2 separate regions of the Homo sapiens genome follow, and region 2 is linked to region 1. The links come from fine-mapping of genetic effects on plasma protein levels. A gene starts in region 1. The other region holds a variant in brackets. All regions are shown on one strand. Distances are between the middles of the regions.

Region 1 (16,216 bases):
AGAGCAGACGCCAGAGTGTGATGGTTCGTCTGTCGCCCGCAACTCCCTGCCGCCCTCACCAACTTCCAGACACACACACACACACACACACACACACACACACACACACACACACACTAGATTGGGTTACAACAACCCACCAGCAGAAAACAACTTCTTCGCAAGGAGGAGGGGAGCACAGCCAAGTCATCCGGAATAAAAAATTATCCGTGTAAATATATAAGACAGATCCTCCCGTTTTCATAAACAACTAGAGTCCCAGGGTTCACCCTCAGGCCCCCTGGCACAACAGGAGGAAAATAAAGCCAGACTCCCGGAGCCCCACTCCAGTACCTCCGAGCTTCGCCTCTGATCAGAGAGCGCGGGTTCGCGTCTGCGCTGGGGCCAATGGTGCCGGGGCCTCCGGCCCGCGTGGCCCCAGCCCGGGGTCCCCGCCGCCGCCCGGGCTCAGCAGCAGCCGCCGCCGCCACCGCCACTGTAGCAGCTGCTGCTGCCGCTGCCGCCGCCGCCGCCGCTCCCTAGCCCTCCTCCTCTTCCCATGGCTGCGCCCTGCTTGGCAGCTCGCGGGCTGTCAGGCTTGGGGAGGAGAGAGGGGGCGGGGTGAAACGGGAAGGGAGGATGGGAGGGCAGGGGTGGGAAAAGGCGGCCACCGTTCACCAGGGGTCACGCCGCGCCTGGCCCGCAGTCCCCCAGATCCAGGTTGCAGAAGCGAAGGCGAAGCGGACGTTCAAGGAGGCCAGTTCGAGAACTGCTGCGGAGAGGCCGAGTGCCGCCCGGGCCAAGCATTCCGAGTTGCTGGGATGAAGTCTTCCCGGCGAGGAGCTGGAGTTGGTGCGTGTCACTCTCAACTGAGCTGCGCGGCTCCTCCTAGAGGAAAATATTGGTAGTTGCAATACACTTCCTTCCTCTCCGCCTGCCCGTTCCAAATGAAAGCAGGACCTACAAGAGCGTTAAGTGCAGTCCACAGACTCAAAGAAACACTTACAAAAAGGTTAGCTATCTCCAGGAATGAGAGGAAGATCAGCGAGATACCTTGGAAAGCGTGTTTAGCCATCCAAATATTGCCTTTCCATCAACAATCAAGTTCCAAACTCCTGCTCACTGGGGCACAGTGAAAAGATAGTTAAAACTACGAAGGACTTTATTGTGGAGGTTAGAAGACGGAGACAGAGAGAATGAGTAATTTACCAAGGACACTCAGCATGTTAGCAGAGAGGTATCTGCTAGAGGACAGGGATGCAGGGAGAGCAGACACAGGCCCCAGCCTGAAGTTCCTGAGCCAGGAAAAGGGTTTTAACTCTGCCTCACGCTGGACATAGCTCATCTGTCAAATGCGAGCCCTGCCTACTTCATTCACAAGAAGTTGTAAAAGTGTTGCAGAAAGTTAAAGTTGTGCATAAGCATGTCATTTTTGTACAGCATCAAACCCCAAGTCACTATATGCTTTTCTGAGTAGAGAGTACAAAAATCTAGCTCCAGGTTGTCTCAGATCTGAAGGAGTAGCTAGTCATGCAATCTTTCCACTATTTACTGACGGTCAATTGTAATGTCACTTACTTATAAGCTTCTAACAGCTTTGGCTTACTAAAGACTTTTTTTTTTTAACAGAGCTCCCAGACACAAACCCAAGTTTATACCCAGAAAGAAATGTTTAAACAACTTAAAGGAACCAAGTTTCTTTTCTTTAGAATAAAATATCTATAGGGCTTTGAAGTAGTACACGGGAGCCAAGACTTGAGAAGGAACAGAGGACCAAAGACTCTGGGATAGCAGATATCACATAAGATACCCCTATTTTCAAAGGAATCAGATAAGTGAAAAACTGTTCCTTAGAATGCTTTCAGAAGCTCAGCTGTGGCTCAAATACCCCAGCTGTTCCAGACAGACACCTAGAATGAACGAAAAAGGAAAGATTCTGGAAGGGGCGTGTTTTATCATGGGGTGGGATGGTTATTGATCCTGAACTGCTCTTGTTCTATGGCATCTAAAAATAAGGAGGCATTTAGTTCCCCTAAGACTCTTCCCCAAACCATTGATTTCTGGGGCTTCATACTTTGCTGGAGCAATAGTGGTGCTTGGCTGTGTCTGGAGCTTTTAAAAGGGGAGGTACCCATATAGAGAAACTTGGGAAAGTAAAAGATTAGGGCACAGTCAAGAAAAACTCCTGCTGGGTGGTCCATACCTGCCAAGCTGGCTGACAGGGTAGTCCTGGCAGGAGTAGAGACCAGACAGGCCTCAAATGCTGACTCCACGCCTGTCTGAAATGACCTTCCAAGTTGGACCTTCTTCAGAGCCTGGCACTACCAACCTCTCTGTTTATATCCTCTCTGTGCCTTCTCATCCTTTGCCCTTCTTCCCTGAGCTAGAGAATCTTGATCTAGTTTAGGAGGTGCCAGACGGAGTCATAAAAGATATTCTAAATTCTATTGTTTATGCTCTGAGATGAGCTCAGGGCCATACTTAAAAAAATAAGAATTGACTTCTTTTTTTTTTTAAATCTGGGTTCAGCAATATCCTCCATTCTGTGTGCCATGAAACTAGACTACTCTGGCTGCTGCTCTGTCTTTGATTTTTAAAAAGTCATCATGCACAGAAAACATAGGAAAAGACACCTCAGTTAATACTATAGAACTAGATATAAACCTGCAACTGACATGAAGGGCAGTCTTTATTTTTAAGCCTCGTAAGTAAAGGTCCTTCAATCTCATATATGACCAGGTATTGGTCCATAGTAGTATGTGCCTCTTTATATATTCCAAATTGTGAGGGAAAATGTAGCAGGTATTGAGTTGATTAATTTGTTATAAGTTAAGGCATGCCAGAGCACATTTACCTTCTGAAGAATGAAACTGCATTTGCTCATGGTTTCCACTCTGCTTGGAAGATCCTACTTTGTCCACCCAGAGAAATCCTTCTTAATCTTAAAGTTCCAATCAATTGTTTACTTTCTCTCTGAAGGTCTTCCTGACTATTCCCCAGGGTGGAATTAATTAATTCTCCCTGTATCAGCACCTTTATAGGCCTTTATATCTTCTTTTATTAAATATTGCAGTTTTGTTGACATGTCTGCTTTTCTCATTAATTAAGAGATTTCTGAGGGAGAAACTATATATTCTTAATATCTGTACCTGCAATGTCTAGGTTAGTGCCCAGTATTTACAGAGTTTATAAAGCGTCCAATAAATAATCAAATTGAATGAAAAGTTGTATCTCTTGGATTTATATCTCTAACCCAGATCTCTCCACAGAGCTCCAGGCTAACAACTGGGTATCTCCATTTGGATGTCTAACAGACCTCTGAAACTTGACATGTCCACATCTGAACTCTGGTTCTTTCTCCTTAAACATACTCCAATCACAGTGGGTGACATTTCCATCTCAGTAGATGGCAACTACTTCCTGCCAGTTACCCAGGCCACAAACCTTTGAAATCATCCTTACTTCTTCTCTGCCAATCACATTCCACATTCAAAACTCTGTCTATTTTCTTGGAGAGGTCCAGAGACACCTGGTCTGAACCACCAGAATTTCTCAGATTACTGCAGTAGTCTCTCAACTCAACTGGTCTGCTTGCTTTGACAAACCCCACCCCTAATCCCCAACCAACACCAACAACAACCCAAAGTATAAATTCAGTTGCCATAGTCATTCCTTTTAAAATTAATATCATGTCATTCCTCAGCTCAAAACCCTCCAATGGTTCCCCATTCAAATCAGAATAAAATTCAAAATGGCCCATGAGACCCTACGTGAGCTATGTACCTTTGCCCCACACCTCATCTCCCATGAATTTCCCCATCACTGGGTCATCCATTCTGCTCCCAGCACACCGGCCTCCCTGCTGTTTCTTAAGCAGGCCAGGCAGACTCCTAACTTGAAGGCTTTTTGCTGGCTTTTCTCTCTGATTTAAACACACTTCCACAAATATTCATTTGCTTCCTCCTACAGTTCCTTGAAGTCTTTACTCAGATATTGGCTAACTTATCTTGTCCAACCTATTTTACCTTATTATGGCCTTACCTTATTATGGCCCACCCTTCCCCAGTCTTTTATACATCCCCAGTAGGGCTTAGCAAAAAATATAAACTGCCTTGAAGACAATAGAAACAATTAGAAAATAATTCTGATTATATATATTCAAGTGCAGATATCTAGGTCAGATCGCCATCTCCCCAAACCATAAAACACCACAGTATAAACTTCCTAAATCTACAGTTATCTGAGGTTAGAGCATGGCTTTAGTCACTCTGTTGTACTATAAAATGCCAAAGCTTCTTCTCAAAACAAAACAAAAGAGGCCAAAACACTTAAAGTAGCATTTTATAGCTGTTTTGTTTTATAGCATTTGTAGTTGAAGAACATAGGATTGTTAGTCAGGAGCCTTGGGATCCTGTGTGGGTCCTCTGTGATTTTGGGTAAATTAGTTACTAATCTCACAATGACTCCATTTCTTGGCCTATAGAAGGAAGGGGTTGCTCTCTGAGATCATTCAGCTGTAAAATAAAGTATTAGATTGATATTTGTAAATCAAATTATGATATCAAACATTTGTGATAAATTCTAAATTTATTTGAATAATATTTGACCAAATGTCCGGGTACCATGCCCTAGCAAAGTTGACACATTGAGATGGTTAATTTTATGTGTCAATTTTGCTAGACCATGGTACCCAGATATTTGGTCAAATATTATTTTAGATTTTTTTGGCAAAGGCATTTTTATGGTAAGATTAACATTTAAATCAATAGACTTTGAGTAAATCATATTGCTCTACATAATGTAGGTGGGCCTCAATCGATCAGTTGAAGGCATTAAGAGAAAAAAACTGACCTATCCCAAAGAAGAGAAAATTCTGTCAGCAGGCAGCCTTTGGATTCAAACTGCATATCAACTATTCCCTAAATCTGTAACCAATTTACCCTGTAGATTTTTGACTTTTCAGTTTTCACAATTATGTGAGCAAATTTCTCAAAATAAGTCTCTGTATATATATCTCATGAATATGACATATATATATATATATATATCTCATGAATATGACATATATATATATATATATCTCCCTGATTAATACAATATTTACTGGTAAAATTAATAAGATTCTAATAAAATATTATCCCTTTAATGAATTTTTTTTAAACTAACACTGAATTCCCATTCACCATGTTCTTTCATTCATACAAATGTTGGTGAGCCTACACTATGACAGACTTCGTTCTAAAAACTTAGCATGCATCAGGGAACAAAATTTATACCACATATCTACAAAGATGCTGCCCTCATGGGGCTTGCATTCTAGTTAGGAGAGACAATGAACAATAAACATAATAAGTAAATCACTGAAGTGCTGATTAAAGAAAACCATAGCAGGGTAAGAGGCTCAAGAATGTCAGGTAGCAGGTACAAGAGTGCTGAGAATTCCTTCCTTGCCCAGGACTCAGCATATCATGGAATTGAGCATGTGATGCTTGTGAGCACACTGTGAGAGCTCTTTGACTAGGGTACTCTCTTTATCTTAGTCCCCTAGTTCCATCCCACAACTGCCTTGGGTGAGGATGGCAAGGGAATCATGAAGAGAAAAAAATGACTTAGGGAAGTATTTATTGCTTTCCCCCTATATTGGAAGGTAACAGGGAAAATGTTATTTCATGATCTGGGTATTCTTAGCCAAAATTTATGAGGAGGTCCCAGAGCCAGGTGAAAGCTTAAAATTGCCATTTATTGGAAAACAACCTAAGATGGCCAAATAGGAACAGCTCTCATCAGCAGCTCCCAGCGTGACTGATGCAGAAGACGGGTGATTTCTGCATTTCCAACTGAGGTACCTGGTTCATCTCATTGGGACTGGTTGGACAGTGGGTGCAGCCCAGAGAGAATAAGCTGAAGCAGGGTGGGGCGTCGCTTCACCCGGGAAGAGCAAGGGGTTGGGGAATTTCCCTTTCTTAGCCAAGGGAAGCAGTGACAGTCTGTACCTGGAGGAATGGTACACTTCTGCCCAAATACTTCACTTTTCCCTCAGTTTTCACAACCAGCAGACGAGGAAGTTCCTTCCTGTGCCTGGCTCAGCAGGTCCCACACCCACAGAGCCTTGCTCACTGCTAGTGCAGCAGTCCAACATCAAACTACGAGGTGGTAGCCTGGCTGGAGGAGAGACGTCAGCCATTGCTGAGGCTTGAGTAGGTAAAGAAAGTGGCTGGGAAGCTTGAACTGGGTGGAGCCCACCGCAGCTCAACGAGGCCTGCTTGCCTCTGTAGACTCCAACTCTGGGGGCAGGGCATAGCTGAACAAAAGGCAGCAGAAACTTCTGCAGACTTAAATGGCCCTGTCTGACAGCTCTGAAGAGAGCAGTGGTTCTCCCAGCATGGTGTTTGAACTCTGAGAAAGGACAGACTGCCTCCTCAAGTGGGTCCCTGACCCCCGTGTAGCCTAACTGGGAGACACCTCCCAGTAGGGGCTGACAGACACCTCATACAGGCAGGTGCCCCTCTGGGATGAAGCTTCCAGAGGAAGGATCAGGCAGCAATATTTGCTGTTCTGCAGCCTCTGCTGGTGATACCCAGGCAAAGAGTTTCTGGAGTAGACCTCCAGCAAATTCCAACAGACCTGCAGCTGAGGGACCTGACTGGTAGAAGAAAAACTAACAAAAAGAAAGGAATAGCATCAACATCAACAAAAAGCACATCCACACCAAAACCCCATCTGTAGTCACCAACATCAAAGACCAAAGGTAGATAAAACCACAAAGATGGGGAGAAACCAGAGCAGAGAAGCTGAAAATTCTAAAAACCCGAGCGCCTCTTCTCCTCCAAAGGATTGCAGCTCCTTGCCAGCAACAGAACAAAGCTGGATGGAGAATGACTTTGATGAGTTGACAGAAGTAGGCTTCAGAAGGTCAGTAATAACAAACTTCTCCGAGCTAAAGGACGATGTTTGAACCCATCATGAGGAAACTAAAAACCTTGAAAACAGATGAGACGAATGGCTAACTAGAATAAACAGTGTAAAGAAGACCTTAAATGACCTCATGGAGCTGAAAAACATCGCATGAGAACTATATGATGCATGCATAAGTTTCAGTAGCCAATTTGATCAAGTGGAAGAAAAGGTTTCAGTGATTGAAGATCAAATTAATGAAATGAAGTGAGAAGAGAAGTTTAGAGAAAAAAGAGTAAAAAGAAATGAACAAAGCCTCCAAGAAATATGGGACTATGTGAAAAGACCAAACCTACGTCTTATTGGTGTACCTGAAACTGATGGGGAGAATGGAGCCAAATTGGAAAACACTCTTCAGGATATTATCCAGGAGAACTTCCCCAACCTAGCAAGGCAGGCCAACATTCAAATTCAGGAAATACAGAGAACACCACAAAGATAATCCTCAAGAAGAGCAACCCCAAGACACATAATCATCAGATTCACCAAGGTTGAAATGAAGGAAAAAATGTTAAGGGCAGCCAAAGAGAAAAGTAGGGTCACCCACAAAGGGAAGCCCATCAGACTAACAGTGGATCTCTTGGCAGAAAGAGATCTCTACAGATCCCTCTCTACAAGAGATCTTTACAGATCCCTCTCTACAAGAGATCTTTACAGATCCCTCTCTACAAGAGATCTTTACAGATCCCTCTCTACAAGCCAGAAGAGAGGGGGGCCAACATTCAACATTCTTAAGGAAAAGAATTTTCAAACCAGAATCTCATATCCAGCCAAACTAAGCTTCATAAATGAAGGAGAAATAAAATCCTTTACAGACAAGCAAAGGCTGAGAGATTTACCCACCACCAGGCCTGTCTTACAAGAGCTCCTGAAGGAAGCACTAAACATGGAAAGGAAAAACTGATACCAGCCACTGCAAAAACATGCCAAATTGTAAAGACCATCAACGTGAAGAATAAACTGCATCAAGTAACGGGCAAAATAACCAGCTAACATCATAATGATGGGATCAAGTTCACACATAACAATATTAACCTTAAATGTAAATGGGCTAGATGCCCTAATTAAAAGACATAGACTGGCAAATTGGATAAAGAGTCAAGACCCAACAGTGTGCTGCATTCAGGAGACCCATCTCACATGCAGAGGCTCACATAGACTCAAAATAAAGGGATGGAGGAAGATCTACCAAGCAAATGGAAAACAAAAAAAGGCAGGGGTTGCAATCCTAGTTTCTGATAAAACAGACATTAAACCAACAAAGATCAAAAGAGACAAAGAAGGCCATTACATAATGGTAAAGGGATCAATTCAACAAGAAGAGCTAACTATCCTAAATATATATGCACCCAATACAGGAGCACCCAGATTCATAAAGCAAGTCCCTAGAGACCTACGAAGAGACTTAGACTCCCACACAATAATAATGGCAGACTTTAACATCCCACGGTCAATATTAGACAGATCAACAAGATAGAAGGTTAACAAGAATGTCCAGGAATTGAACTCAGCTCTGTACCAAGCAGACCTAATAGGCATCTACAGAATTCTCCACCCCAAATCAACAGAATATACATTCTTCTCAGCACCACATCACACTTATTCCAAAATTAACTACATAGTTGGAAGTAAAGCACTTGTCAGCGAATGTAAAAGAACAAAAATAACAACAAACTGTTTCTCAGACCACAGAGCAATCAAATTAGAACTCAGGATTAAGAAACTCAGTCAAAACTGCACAACTACCTGGGAACGGAACAACCTGCCCCTGAATGACTACTGGGTAAATAATAAAATGAAGGCAGAAATAAAGATGTTCTTTGAAATCAATGAGAACAAAGACACAATGTACCAGAATCTCTAGGACACATTTAAAGCAGTGTGTAGAGGGAAATTTAAAGCACTGAATGCCCACAAGAGAAAGCAGGAAAGATCTAAAATCAATACCCTAACATCACAATTAAAAGAACTAGAGAAGCAAGAGCAAACAAATTCAAAAGCTAGCAGAAAGCAAGAAATAACTAAGATCACAGCAGAACTGAAGGAGACAGAGACACAAAAAACTCTTCAAAAAATCAATGACTCCAGGAGCTGGTTCTTTTGAAAAGATAACAAAATTGATAGACTGCTAGCAAGAATAATAAAGAAGAAAAGAGAGAAGAATCAAATAGACACAATAAAAAATGATAAAGGGGATATCACCACTGATCCCACAGAAATACAGACTAACATCAGAGAATACTATAAACTCCTCTATGCAAATACACTAGAAAATCTAGAAGAAATGCATAAATTCCTGTGCACATACACACTCCCAAGACTAAACCAGGAAGAAGCTGAATCCCTGAATAAACCAATAACAGGCTCTGAAATGGAGGCAATAATTAAGAGCCCAACAACCAAAAAAAGTCCAGGACCAGATAGATTCACAGCCGATTTCTACCAGAGGTACAAAGAGGAGCTGATACCATTCCTTCTGAAATTATTCCAATCAATAGAAAAAGAAGGAATCCTCCCTAACTCATTTTATGAGGCCAGCATCATCCTGATACCAAATCCTGGCAGAGACACAACAAAAAAAGACAATTTTAGACCATTCTCCCTGATGAACATCGATGCAACAATCCTCAATAAAATACTGGCAAACTGAATCCAGCAGCACATCAAAAAGCTTATTCACCAAGATCAAGTTGGCTTCATCCCTGGGATGCAAGGCTGGTTCAATATATGCAAATCAATAAACATAATCTAGCATATAAACAGAACCAACTACAAAAACCACATGATTATCTCAATAGATGCAGAAAAGGCCTTTGACAAAATTGAACAGCCCTTCATGCTAAAAACTCTCAATAAACTAGGTATTGATGGAAGGTATCTCAAAATAATAAGAGCTATTTGTGACAAGACCACAGCCAACATCATAAAGAATGGGCAAAAACTGGAAGCATTCCCTTTGAAAACTGGCACAAGACAAGGATGCCCTCTCTCACCACTCCTATTCAACATAGCGTTGGAAGTTCTGGCCAGGGCAATCAGGCAAGAGAAAGAAATAAAGGGTATTCAGTTAGGAAATGAGGAAGTCAAATTGTCCCCATTTGCAGATGACATGATTGTATATTTAGAAAACCCCATCATCTCAGCCCAAAATCTCCTTAAGCTGATAAGCAACTTCAGCAAAGCCTCAGGATATAAAATCAATGTGCAAAAATCACAAGCATTCCTACACAACAATAACAGACAAACAGAGAGCCAAATCATGAGTGAACTCCCATTCACAATTACTACAAAGAGAATAAAACACCTAGGAATCCAACTTACAAGGGATGTGAAGGACCTCTTCAAGGAGAACTACAAACCGCTGCTCAATGAAATAAAAGAGGACACAAACAAATGGAAGAACATTCCATGCCCATGGATAGGAAGAATCAATATCATGAAAATGGCCATACTGCCCAAGGTAATTTATAGATTTAATGCCATCCCCATCGAGCTACCAATGACTTTCTTCATAGAACTGGAAAAAACTACTTTAAAGTTCATATGGAACCAAAAAAGAGCCCTCATTGCCAAGACAATCCTAAGCAAAAAGAACAAAGCTGGAGCCATCACATTACCTGACTTCAAACTATACTACAAGGCTACAGTAACCAAAACAGCATGGTATTGGTACCAAAACAGGTGTATAGACCAATGGAACAGAGCAGAGCCCTCAGAAATAACACCACACTTCTACAACCATCTGATCTTTGACAAACCTGTGAAAAACAAGCAATGGGGAAAGGATTCCCTATTTAGTAAATGGTGCTGGGAAAACTGGCTAGCCATATATAGAAAGCTGAAACTGGATCCCTTTCTTACACCTTATACAAAAATTAAATCAAGATGGATTAAAGAGTTAAATGTTAGACCTAAAACCATAAAAACCCTACAAGAAAACCTAGGCAATACCATTCAGGACATAGGCATGGGCAAGGACTTCATGACTAAAACACCAAAAGCAATGTCAACAAAAGCCAAAATTAGCAAATGGGATCTAATTAAGCTAAACAGTTTTTGCACAGCAAAAGAAACTACCATCAGAGTTAGCTAGGCAACCTACATGAATGGGAGAAATATTTTGCAATCTACCCATCTGACAAAGGGCTAATATCCAGAATCTACAAAGAACTTAAACAAATTTACAAGAAAAAATGAAACAACCCCATCAAAAAGTGGGCAAAGTATAAGAACAGACACTTTTCAAAAGAAGACATTTATGCAGCCAACAGACACATGAAAAAATGCTCATCACCACTGGTTATCAGAGAAACACAAATCAAAACCACAGTGAGGTACCATCTCACGCCAGTTAGAATGGTGATCATTAAAAAGTCACGAAACAACAGATGCTGGAGAGGATGTAGAGAAATAGGAACACTGTTATACTGTTGGTGGGAGTGTAAACTAGTTCAACTGTTGTGGAAGACAGTGTGGTGATTCCTCAAGGATCTAGAACTAGAAATACCATTTGACCCAGCCATCCCATTACTGGGTATATACCCAAAGGATTATAAATCATGCTGCTATAAAGACACATGCACACGTATGTTTACTGCGGCACTGTTCACAGTAGCAAAGACTTGGAACCAGTCCAAATGTCCATCAGTGATAGACTGGATTAAGAAAATGTGGCACATCTACAACATGGAATACTATGCAGCCATAAAAATGGATGAATTCATGTCCTTTGAAGGAACATGGATGAAGCTGGAAACCATTCTGAGCAAACTATAGCAATGACAGAAAACCAAACACCACATATTCTCACTCATAGGTGGGAATTGAACAATGAGAACACTTGGACACAGGGTGGGGAACATCACACACTGGTGCCTGTCATGGGGTAGGGGCATGGGGGAGGGATAGCATTAGGAGAAATACCTAATGTAAATGATGAGTTAATGGGTGCAGCAAACCAACATGGTACATGTATACCTATGTAACAAACCTGCACGTTGTGCACATGTACCCTAGAACTTAAAGTATAATTAAAAAAGCAAAAACAAACGAACAAAAATTACCATTTATTTTATGAATTTCAAAAAATAGGTATTTCAATTCAGAGTTTATAAAAACTCAAAGGAATAAATAAAACTGATCTCCTTTATGCTCTTTAGTGGATTCACCCACAGGAAAGTTACAGGCCAGGGATATGCCAGATTATGTACAGCCACCTGGTAGAGAGGAACAAAATCAAACAGGTCTCAAAAGAGACTCATGAATAAACATTCCCCTTTAAATAATTTAAGTGTGGAGATTTTTAAAAATTGACATTATTTTCTTTACCTTCTCACCAAATGCAAAAGCCTGTTTAAAAAACCCATCTGATAGACAATCATCTATCAAAGATGATGAAACAATTAGAAACATTGAGATGATTTCTGCTTTCTGAATAATTGTACTGATGAGTAACCCACTAATTCCCTCACTGGGCAGCATGACTGCATTATTTGTTAAAAATATGTTACTAAGAATTTGCTATTCTATTATTTGTACCTGATTCTATCTCTCATAGGGAAAAAATTAGCAATTTAAATTTGTTTGTTTCATGAGACACACTTACATGTCATACTGCCAGTTACCTCTTCTCCAGACCAAACACACACAGGTGTTTTCACTACTTCTCATTGACATGAGAAGTCAATGAGACTTGCTGACCCTACACCATCCTGGGCTACCTCCTTGGTGTGTGCTCCAGTTTATCAAACTCCTTCATAAATTGCTGTTCCCGGTATCAAATTCAATTCCATTGTGGTCACCACAAGATAGAGGAAGACCATAAGCTTTCAGCTAGGTGCCATAGAGTAATGAAATGACAGAAGCCCTGGAGTCTGTTAGATGTGGTGGGATCCCAGTTCCAAACAACCTATGCTACTTATTCAGCCTACACTCCCAGGAAGTAAATTCAGGCACCTCAGTGTGATAAAGGGATGTCTATCCCTTCTTTCATTTTCCATTTCAATCCTTTCCTACTGCCTATCTTCACATACTGTAGGATTCTTTTCTTTACCTCTATCTTCTTAATTTTTAAAAGAAGTGAAAATATAAAAGCAAAAAAAAGGATATAAATGAGAAAGGAATCTGACCAGGTATGAGAAAGTTTCTCATAACCGCTTTCCTTCATAAAAGGCACACAGATCATTTCCAATTACTAAATGAACTCTCAATGTAACTTGCTAATCAGACTTGACTGAGGGCATCATGGATGCCCAAGAGAAATAACACTGAACCCTTTTGAGCTTGAAAAAAACCCAGCTCTGCCTACTCAATGTCTACCCAGTGAAGCCAGAAAAGGTCAAGTGAGGGTATGAACTACTGGAGAATTTCTGGCTGGAAAAACTCCTTAGGTAGGGTAAGGGCTATATTGAGGAACAAGATGACTAGCAAGGTAATAGCACTTTTCTCCCAGCCACTGGCCCTCTGGAGCACTTTCTGAACCAGGTGTAAGGCTGAGATGTCTAGCCACATAAAAAACAGTGATACCTCTATAAAAGAACTTAAAAGCTAAGTAAAATAGGTTTCAGCTGTTGTAGACAAAAATAAATCAGATTGTCCAAATTTTATTTGCTTCCTAAAATGTGTTTACCATATTTTTTAACACTGTGCAATATTCCAAGCACAAATCACATAAATTATGTAAGGATTTTTTCACAGTAGTCCTGTGAAAAAGGTGTGATTGTCCTTTCTTTTTTAGTAAGAAAGTGGCTTGGAGAAGAAAATCAACTAGACCAAGTCACACAATGAGATTGATATAGTCCAGTGAAACAAGAGCATTCTGTGGACAACTCCATACCTTTTCATGTAGCCATGCTACCATCTTGCTCAATTTGTGTTTTCAAGCCACCACCCTACAAGCATCTGTCTTTGGCAAAATCTTTAAAATTATCTTTCAATATCTAGGAACCAAACTAATGGTAGTGGTAGCAGGGAAGGACATAAGGAAAGTCTATTGCATTTTAGTTCCATCACATGTAGGCCCACTTCTAACATTTGTGGGAGCCACAGCCAGAGGACAAATGAAGCCCGCATAGTATAAGTCCATAAGGCTAAATATTAATATTTTAAAGTATTGTCAGTCTAATGAATTGTTGGCTACAATGTGTTCTATCCTCTTACCTTCAGAAATATACCTTCATAATGACCTGAAAGGACAGGTTTGAATTTAGATTTCTCAGACCTCTCAGAATTTTGCACCAGAAGTTAGTCATGCAGGGATATCTGGTCCTCAGTTTGATTCTTAGTCCCCAGTCGTTGCCACTTTCCCCACTCTTGGCTCCCACTATGCTCAGCAACGGTCTCCTATATATGTGTGTATAGAAGCATACATGTCCAAGCTCTAGCCAACCTCTCCCTCCCCCACCTTGGAACTCCAGGACACTTCAGCTAGGAACTCCAAAGTCTGAGATATCACAAAGAATGGTCTGAAGAGGAACCACAGCTCATGGCCAGGCATATCTCATTCATCCAAAGTTTCCTTGTCTGGTGAATGGGGACATTGCTGGAGGAAAGACAGCTCGGGAACTCTCTAGCATGGGCCAGTGAGCAGTATTTACAGTATGATCTCCTGGAGACCTCTGTACATTTCTTTAGTGGGAACAGGGCTGGAAGGGGGCAGATATTCGTCTAAGAGCAGCTTGGAAAAGAGGTTCAGGGTTGGTTTTCAATTGAGGAGCCCAGTATAGAATTCAGTGTATTAAGAACTTATCAAATCCTTGTTTAAAAAGTTGAATTTCATTTTTCGGGCTATCTGATGCTCATTATTGAAAATAAAGCTAAAAGAAAAGTAATACAATGTGAAATATGTAGGAAACATATATGCAGAAGACAGCAACAACTTGATAGCAAAATACTACTATCTATGGATATTTGGGTAGATTTCAATTTTTGGTTACTACAAATAGTTTTCCTATGGACATTCTGTTGTATGTCTTTTAGAGACTGTCCACATTTTTCTTGAGTATATATATATATCCAAACGATGTTCAAAAGTGGTTGTATGAATTTGTGCTTCTGCCAGCAGTGTATGAAAGATTTCATTTCTTACATTCTTACCAACACTTGGTATTTTTCATCTTTTTTTGTTTTAGCCATTCTGGTGCCTGTGGAGCATACTACATCATGGTTTAAACTGGCATTCCCCTGATTTCTTAGGAACTTGAATGCCTTTTCATGTTTACTGATTTTTTGGATCTTTTCTTTCAAAAATGTCTGTTTAGTTCTTTCTTATTTTATCTAACTTTATATATTTTGCACACATATAGCTACACACATTATTTATGAATATTTATTTTTTAATTTGGAAAAAATTACATGAAACATTTTTTCTAGGAAAATGTAGGTAGTGAAAATTTTGGAAAGTGTAAGGGGGTTGGGTATATGAGAGAACAAGGACTTCTACCTTGCTTTTGCACTCTAGTTTTCTTTTAAATCAGGGAACATAAATTCTGAATCTGCATAATGGAAACCTCATCTATATAAGAAGTTGAATCTTAATAGAATATTAAAATTCTGTGCTTTACGAAGTGCTTGAATGGTAAGTTTCTCTAGTAGATTAAATATATGATTCACTTTACAATGACTTGATTCACAAGCAACATTAAATAAACATTTATTATATAGTATGAGATGAGGTATGAACCAATTTATTAGTAATTTCAACATGATAGAAAGCCTGGATAAAACAAACTGGTTGATGCATAACAATCACTTTATTTATGCAGACTTAGATAATCTTCCAAACCAATATGTCAGAGTTCTTAATCTGTGTATATCCTTATCATCTGTGTTGTTATTTATTTACCTTATTCACTCATATATTTAATGTTTCTCTACCTCTTTCTTCTAAAAGAGGATTTGAGGTGGCTTCTAGAAATACATATAAGCCAAAAAGATAAATAAATAAAACAGGTGAGGAAATGAGAATGTAAGAAAAATAGGATATAAAACTGAGATAACCAGCAGGGATAGTTAGCTCTTGTAATGTGTATCATAACATCCTGTTCTTTTGCTAGAAGTGGGCTCTTAGCTTGGCTCTGAGTTTCTTTGTGGCTATAACAAATAAAATATCATAATCCTTTACAACATGTATGTTAATATAAAGTGAAAGCCAAGCAGTTATTTTTAGAAGTGCATATCCTTCTGAAACTAATCCATAGAAATTGTTTCTCAAGATCATCTTAATAGGGGCCAGAGGTAGTGGGCTGGATAATGTAGTGGCAATGGTGTTATATAAGATAAGACC
Region 2 (8,000 bases), 270 kb before region 1:
GTATCTAAAGTGTGTGAAGAAACTACTGGGATGAAGCCAGTGTATTCCGTGTCTAGGAGGTAATGCCGATGTCTTCCAGAAAAGCATTTTTCCTGGGTCATAGTTTTAGTGCCTGTTGCTTGCCATTGTCAGCCTTTGATTCTAGACACAAACCATTTTGCCTTTTATTTCAAGCATTTCATAGGACCTGTTTAAGAAACCAGAGCTAGAGATTAGGATTTGGATATAGGTAGTTCATCTGGAAGATGACTTCTGGATCTAGCAGTCAGGGAATGGGGAGGGTGGGAAGGAAAGGGAGAACAACTAATATGTGTGTGTTCTGAGCTGGTTATCACAGTGGCTAATGGGGCCCAATCCCTCTGAGGCTCCTTTGAGAAGCTGTGTAGAATATGCACCACCACTGTTGTGTAGAAAGATGAGAGGCTAGGATATTTATCTACCGCTCCCAGTACTCACTGGTTGAAGGGTGCCTCAGAGATGTTCACCCCCATGCACTTCTAGGCTGTACCTGCACATGAGCTGAGGGTCTTTGCCGAGGCAGGCACCTGAGTCTGCCCGGCAGGGTGCATAGTGGCAAATGGACACCATAGACAGTTGTGATGACATCAGGTGGATGTGGGGGATGTAGTGTGGGAACCACAGCATGCACTACAGGGCCTTTTATCTTTTCATTGATTTTTGATAAAAGGCACTTATGTTTGCATTCTTTTAAAAGATTCAGCCAGTAAACTCATTAAATAGATGCCCACTCTAAACAACTTATACATACTCATGTGTTAATTCTAATTTGAGAAGTAAGTGCAGAATGCCTCTCATGTGTTAGGAATTTAGCCAAAATTCCTCTGCATCTATGAAATGTATAGATGTGCAACAGACAGGTATGAAGCAAAACACATTTTTGTGTATGAATTCTCAGTGTTCTGATGTCCATGGCCATTTTGGAGATTTCTTTTCAAATTTCTCTTCTTTTTCTTATTTTTTTCTCCTTATATGATTAGCCTTCAATCATATTGTAAACTTAATCTAAAACTCTCATTCCTGGGTTATCAGGGAGGCTCTCAATCTTAAAGTATCTTTGTCAATACTTTGAAAGATCTCTTAAAAATAAATAATATGAAGCAAATGCATAAAAACTCATGATTCCAAATTCCAGGTTACATACCTGATGTTATGAACCAAAAACAGGCTTCTTTTTTCCTCTGGCAACAAACTCATAAGGCATGGGATGTTATAAACCTTCTAAACAAATCCATCATTCAAATTCATTCAACAAACATTATTAAACGCAAATTTTGT[A/G]CCAGGCTGTGTTCTAGGAATAGAGAAATGAACAAGTTGATAAAAGTTGGTCCTTGTCTAGTTTCCATTCTAGCAAAAGCAGGGATGTGGGGATCCTATGTAGAAAAATAAGCTGGGTCAGGTAGCGTGATGCCTTCAGCTTTGTTCTTTTTGCTTACGATTATCTTGGCTATGCAGGCTCATTTTTGGTTCCATATGAAATCTAAAGTAGTTTTTTTCCAATTCTGTGAAGAAAGTCAATGGTAGTTTGATGGGGATAGCATTGAATCTATAAATTACTTTGGGCAATATGGCCATTTTCATGATATTGATTCTTCCTATCCATGAGGATGTTTTTCCATTTGTTTGTGTCCTCTCTTATTTCCTTGAGCAGTGGTTTGTAGTTCTCCTTGAAGAGGTCCTTCACATCCTTTGTAAGTTGTATTCCTAGGTATTTTATTCTCTTTGTAGCAATTGTGAATGGGAGTTTGCTCGTGATTTGGCTCTCTGTCTGTTACTGGTGTATAGGAATGCTTGTGATTTTTGCACTTTGATTTCGTATCCTGAGACTTTGCTGAAGTTGCTTATCAGCTTAAGGAGATTTTGGGCTGAGACGATGGGGTTTTCTAAATATACAATCATGTCATCTGCAAACAGAGACAATTGAATTTCCTCTTTTCCTAATTGAATACCCTTTATTTCTTTCTCTTGCCTGACTGCCCTCGCCAGAGTTTTGAATAATATGTTGAAAAGGAATGGTGAGAGAGGGCATTCTTTTCTTATGCCGGTTTTCAAAGGGAATGCTTCTAGCTTTTGCCCATTCAGTATGATATTGGCTGTGGGTTTGTCAAAAATAGCTCTTATTATTTTGAGATACATTCCATGAATACCTAGTTAATTGAGAGTTTTTAGCATGAAAGGCTGTTGAATTTTGTCGAAGGCTTTTTCTGCATCTATTGAGATAATCATGTGGTTTTGTCACTGGTTCTGTTTCTGTGATGGATTACGTTTATTGATTTGTGTATGTTGAACCAGCCTTGCATTCCAGGGATGAAGCCGACTTGATCGGGGTGGATAAGCTTTTTGATGTGCTGCTGGATTAGGTTTGCCAGTATTTTATTGAGGATTTTTGCATCAGTGTTCATCAGGGATATTGGTCTAAAATTTTCTTTTTTTATTGTGTCTCTGACTTCATACTACAAGGCTACAGTAACAAAGACAGCATGGTACTGGTACCAAATAAGATATATAGACCAATGGAACAGAACAGAGGCCTCAGAAATAACACCACACATCCACAACCATTTGATCTTTGACAAACCTGACAAAAACAAGCAATGGGGAAAGGATTCCCTGTTTAATAAATGGTGTTGGGAAAACTGGCTAGCCATACGCAGAAAGCTGAAGCTGGATCCCTTCCTTTCATCTTATACAAAAATTAACTCAAGATGGATTAAAGACTTAAACGTAAGACCCAAAACCATAAAAACCCTAGAAGAAAACCTAGGCAATACCATTCAGGAAATAGGCATGAGCAAAGACTTCATGACTAAGACACCAAAAGCAATAGCAACAAAAGCCAAAATTGACAAATGGGATCTAATTAAACTAAAGAGCTTCTGCACAGCAAAAGAAACTACCAGCAGAGTGAACAGGCAACCTACAGAATGGGGGAATATTTTTGCAATCTGCCCATCTGACAAAGGGCTAATATCCAGAATCTACAAAGAACTTCAATAAATTTACAAGAAAAAAAACAACCCCATCAAAAAGTGGGCAAAGGATATAAACAGACACTTCTCAAAAGAAGACATTTATGCAGCCAACAGACACATGAAAAAATGCTCGTCATCACCGGTCATCAGAGAAATGCAAATCAAAACCACAATGAGATACCATTTCACACCAGTTAGAATGGCGATCATTAAAAAGTCAGGAAAAAACAGATGCTGGAGAGGATGTGGAGAAATAGGAACGCTTTTACACTGTTGGTGGGAGTGTAAATTAGTTCAACCATTGTGGAAGACAGTGTGGCAATTCCTCAAGGATCTAGAACTAGAAATACCATTTGACCCAGCAATCCCATCACTGGGTATATACCCAAAGGATTATAAATCATTCTACTATAAAGACACTTGCACATGTATGTTTATTGCAGCACTGTTCACAATAGCAAGGACTTGGAACCAACCCAAATGCCCATCAGTGATAGACTGGTTAAAGAAAATGTTGCATATATGCACCATGGAATACTACTCAGCCATAAAAAAGGATGAGTTCATGTTCTTTGCAGGGACATGGATGAAGCTGCAAACCATCATCCTCAGCAAACTAACACAAGAACAGAAAACCAAACACCACATGTTCTCACTTATAAGTGGGAGTTGAACAATGAGAACACACATACACAGGGAGGGGAACTTTACACACTGGGGCCTGTTGAGGGCTGTGGGGCTGGGGGAGGGATAACATTAGGAGAAATACCTAATATAGATGACGGGTTGGTGGGTGCAGCAAACCACCATGGCACATGTATACCTATGTAACAAACCTGCACGTTCTGCACATGTACCCCAGAACTTAAAGTATAATAATAATAATAATAAAAAGAAAAATAAGCAGGGTAAGAAGAAAGGAACTGCATCCTTGTTTGAGAACAACTGTTGCCCTCAATAGTACAAACAAGTGAATCTTCAGAAAATCCTGAGTTGCAAATATGTCTTTAGCCCTGGGAGCACAGGTTGGGGATAGCAGGAGTGTTTTTGTAATCAAATTCCACGGTCATATTGTTGTAAGAAATACTCATTTTCCTGTATGAATGGAGAAATTTACAAGAGTTTTAGGGCATGGATGGGATGTGCCTTGGTACTGAGGGCAGATGGGCAGCTCTCTCTATGTGGTCAGTGTTTACCAACCCCTCTCAGAACACTGAGGTGTACGAGCCCACATTATCTGTTACAAATGAGTACAGTGAAAAAGATGTGTATTTCGTTAGGCAAGCACCTCTCATACAGTAAAGCACTGAAAATATTCCTTTTTACTATTAGTTGAAGCACTGAAAACAAACACTATTTTAGGTCCTTCTACAAAGTTAGTAATTATTAAAACTAAATATTTAAACCACAACTGTTTTAATGCTGGTATATCTGAGGAGACTATTTCACATTCTAACTGTTCGTTTGCACAGAAATAAGAAAAGGAAATGCACTAGATTAGAAATTGAGAGATGTGTACTCTAGTTCTGGCTCTGACACTATTTAACGTTGACCTTCCCAAGCCATTTGGTCTTGATTTCCTTAGTAGAATGCCTGGAATAGATGAGACACAAAGTACTTTACAATTTTACAGCTTCGCTTTTACAATTAAGAGGCATATATAATTATGAACAATAACGTACACAACAAAAACATAATTTTGGCATTTGAATTGAAACAACAATAGAACACCAAATACAAATGTCAATCAGGTTCCTATATTCTCTGTAAAATATGCCTGTTACATAATAGCAAGAATAATAAACTCAACTTCAAAACTTGAAACAGAAAGAAATAAAAAACTTTGTCAGCTGAAACAAAAAAAAAAACTTAAAAAGAAAAAATAACTAATCTGAAACACATTTTGATTACTTAAACTTAGTATTCTTAGATTTATTGTTTCCTTTTAACTCCAGATGCATAGAAAGTCCTTATTACCTTCTCATTGTAAATAAGAAATAGGAAATTTATGGGTGTGGTGCTGATGTGATGACGTGTGTGTCTGCACATGGAACTCCGATACAGATGTTGTGCAGCAGAGCTGTTTTGTTCTTGTCTTTTTAAATGTCTTTCTTTCCCTTCCTTTCTTCCCTTCCACCTTCCTCTTTTCTTTATTTTACCCTGCACCCTCCTTCTCTCTTTCCGGCTTTTTTAAATTTTATGGCTGGGTATGTGCTGTTAAGTGCTGTGGCAGACAGCCCCTAAAGTAGCCTCCAATGATTCCTGTCTTCTCTCATTCACAGCCTTATGTATTTCCTTCCCTTGAGTAACTTGCTTCTAATCAGAAGAATATGGCAGCATGGAGTGGATGGCAGTTCTATGATTAGGTTACAAAAGATTGAGACTTCTTTTTAACTAGCAGACTCACCCTTTTGCTGGTTTTGATGAAGTACGTTGCTGTGTGGTGAGAACCATACAGCAGAGAACTAAGCATGGCCTCTGGCCAACACTCAGCAAGAAGTAGAGGCCCTCAGTATAAAAACCCTTGAGGAACTGGCTGGGCGCGGTGGCTCATGCCTGTAATCCCAGCACTTTGGGAGGCTGAGGTAGGTGGATCATGAGGTCACGAGATCGAGACCAGCCTGACCAACATGGTGAAATCCCATCTCTACTAAAAATAGAAAAATTAGCTGGGCATGGTGGCATGCACCTGTAATCCCAGCTACCTGGGAGGCTGAGGCAGGAGAATTGCTTGAACCTGGGAAGCGGAGTTTGCAGTGAGCCAAGATTGCGCCACTGCACTCCAGTCTGGTGATGGAGCAAGACTCCATCTCAAAAAAAAATATATAAAAATAAAAAAAACCTTTGAGGAACTGAATCCTGCCAACAACAATGTAAATAAGCATGGGAACCAATCTTTCCCTATCCAGCCTTCAGATGAGACCACAGCCCTGGCTGACACTTTGATTGCAGTCTTATAAGATAGCTTGAAGCACAGGACACAGCTGGTGGGTTACTTTGGAAAAAGTGTGAGAGGTATATTAACTTTACTAAATATTTGAATGCTATTAATACAGAGTAAATGAATTTAATATATCAGAACTTAAAAGTAGTGCTCAAGAATGACACAAGCCACTTTTCTTAGCAAATGGAATGTATCACAGTGAGTGTGAGAAAGTGGGTGACTCCTCTTTTGGAGGCAAGAAGAACTATATTGTGCCTGGCCGTTTAGTTTCTCCTTAATCACATCCTGTCACATCTAGTACCATTGTGCCGCTGTGGCTGAAGACACTCAGCATTCCTAAAGTCCAACTCCTTAGTGTCATCTTAAGGCTTTCTAAATCTGAGAGGAACTACCATAATCTTAAAATGAACACCTTTCTCACTATGTCTAAAAATCCTATTAGAATCTTACTTTTACTACGAAGACAACAAATGACTACTATAGACTCTTAGGTCTTCTCTGATTAGCCAGGAACAGAAAATCATTTCTGAACTAGTAATATTTCTTGCTTTCTTATGATTTTTAAAGATTAAATCTAAAAATAGTATAGTTCAACATCCATTTATAGCACCTCTGAAAGGAATGTTGCAATTAACAAGAGAGCCTAACTTTGCCCCTAAGTGAATTATCACTAAGAACAATGAGTTAAGTTGGAACACACATGTGGTGTTTGGTTTTCTGCTCTTGTGATCGTTTGCTGAGAATGATGGTTTCCAGCTTCATCCATGTCCCTGCAAAGGACGTGAACTCATCCTTTTTTATGGCTGCATAGTATTCCATGGTGTATATGTGCCACACTTTCTTTATCCAGTCTATCACTGATGGACATTTGGGTTGGTTCCAAGTCTTTGCTATTGTGAATAGTGCTGCAGTAAACGTACGTGTGCATATGTCTTTTTTTTTTTTTTTTTTTTTGAGACGGAGTCTTGCCCTTTTGCCCAGGCTGGACTGCAGTGGCGCTATCTCGGCTCACTGCAAGCTCCGCCTCCCGGGTTCATGCCATTCTCCTGCCTCAGCCTCCCGAGTAGCTGGGACTACAGGCGCCCGCCACTGCGCCTGCCTAATTTTTTGTATTTTTAGTAGAGATGGGGTTTCACCATGTTAGCCAGGATGGTCTCGATCTCCTGAACTTGTGATCTGCCTGCCTCAGCCTCCCAAAGTGCTGGGATTACAGGCATGAGCCACCACGCCCGGCCGCATGTGTATTTATAGTAGCATGATTTATAATCCTTTGGGTATATACCCAGTAATGGGATCACTGGGTCATATGGTATTTCTAGTTCTAGATCCTTGAGGAATTGCCACACTGTCTTCCACAATGGTTGAACTAATTTACACTCCCACCAACAGTGTAAAAGCGTTCCTATTTCTCCACATCCTCTCCAGCATCTGTTGTTTCCTGACTTTTTAACGATCGCCATTCTAACTGGTGTGAAATGGTATCTCATTGTGGTTTTGATTTGCATTTCTCTGATGACCAGTGATGATGAGCATTTTTTCATGTGTCTGTTGGCTGCATAAATGTCTTCTTTTGAGAAGTGTCTGTTTATATCCTTTGCCCACTTTTTGATGGTTTTTTTTTTTTCTTGTAAATTTATTGAAGTTCTTTGTAGATTCTGGATATTAGCCCTTTGTCAGATGGGCGGATTGCAAAAATTTTCTCCCATTCTGTAGGTTGCCTGTTCACTCTGCTGGTAGTTTCTTTTGCTGTGCAGAAGCTCTTTAGTTTAATTAGATCCCATTTGCCAATTTTGGCTTTTGTTGCCATTGTTTTTGGTGTTTTAGTCATGAAGTCTTTGCCCATGCCTATTTCCTGAATGGTATTGCCTAGGTTTTCTTCTAGGGTTTTTATGGTTTTAGGCCTAACATTTAAGTCTTTAATCCATCTTGAATTAATTTTTAATGGGTGCAGCAAACCAACATGGCACATGTATGCCTATGTAACAAATCTGCACGTTGTGCACATGCATGCCAGAACAAAGTATAATAAAAAAAAATAATAATAATAGAAAGACATTAAGCATTCA

What was found. A credible set is the group of variants that fine-mapping cannot tell apart. PIP is the posterior inclusion probability: the model's chance that the variant is causal. Sun 2018 read protein levels with aptamers (SomaScan).
Region 2: its variant is the best candidate, but not a certain one, in a credible set for the plasma level of the GHR protein (Sun 2018, PIP 0.62).

The regions. Positions count from the first base shown.
Region 1 is chr5:42,408,073-42,424,288 of GRCh38, reverse strand. GHR (growth hormone receptor) reads right to left here and starts at 850. Exons shown (of 10, transcript NM_000163.5): 1 at 334-850. RefSeq lists promoters at 1-157, 1-578, 776-876, 486-1,058, 482-1,567, cis regulatory regions at 681-721, 1,059-1,567 and an enhancer at 705-854.
Region 2 is chr5:42,680,824-42,688,823 of GRCh38, reverse strand. The region is part of intron 3 of GHR (growth hormone receptor); the gene reads right to left. Among named protein-coding and RNA genes, the nearest start is that of CCDC152, 72 kb to the left of the region's middle. The variant A/G (reference allele first, on the strand shown) is at 1,297.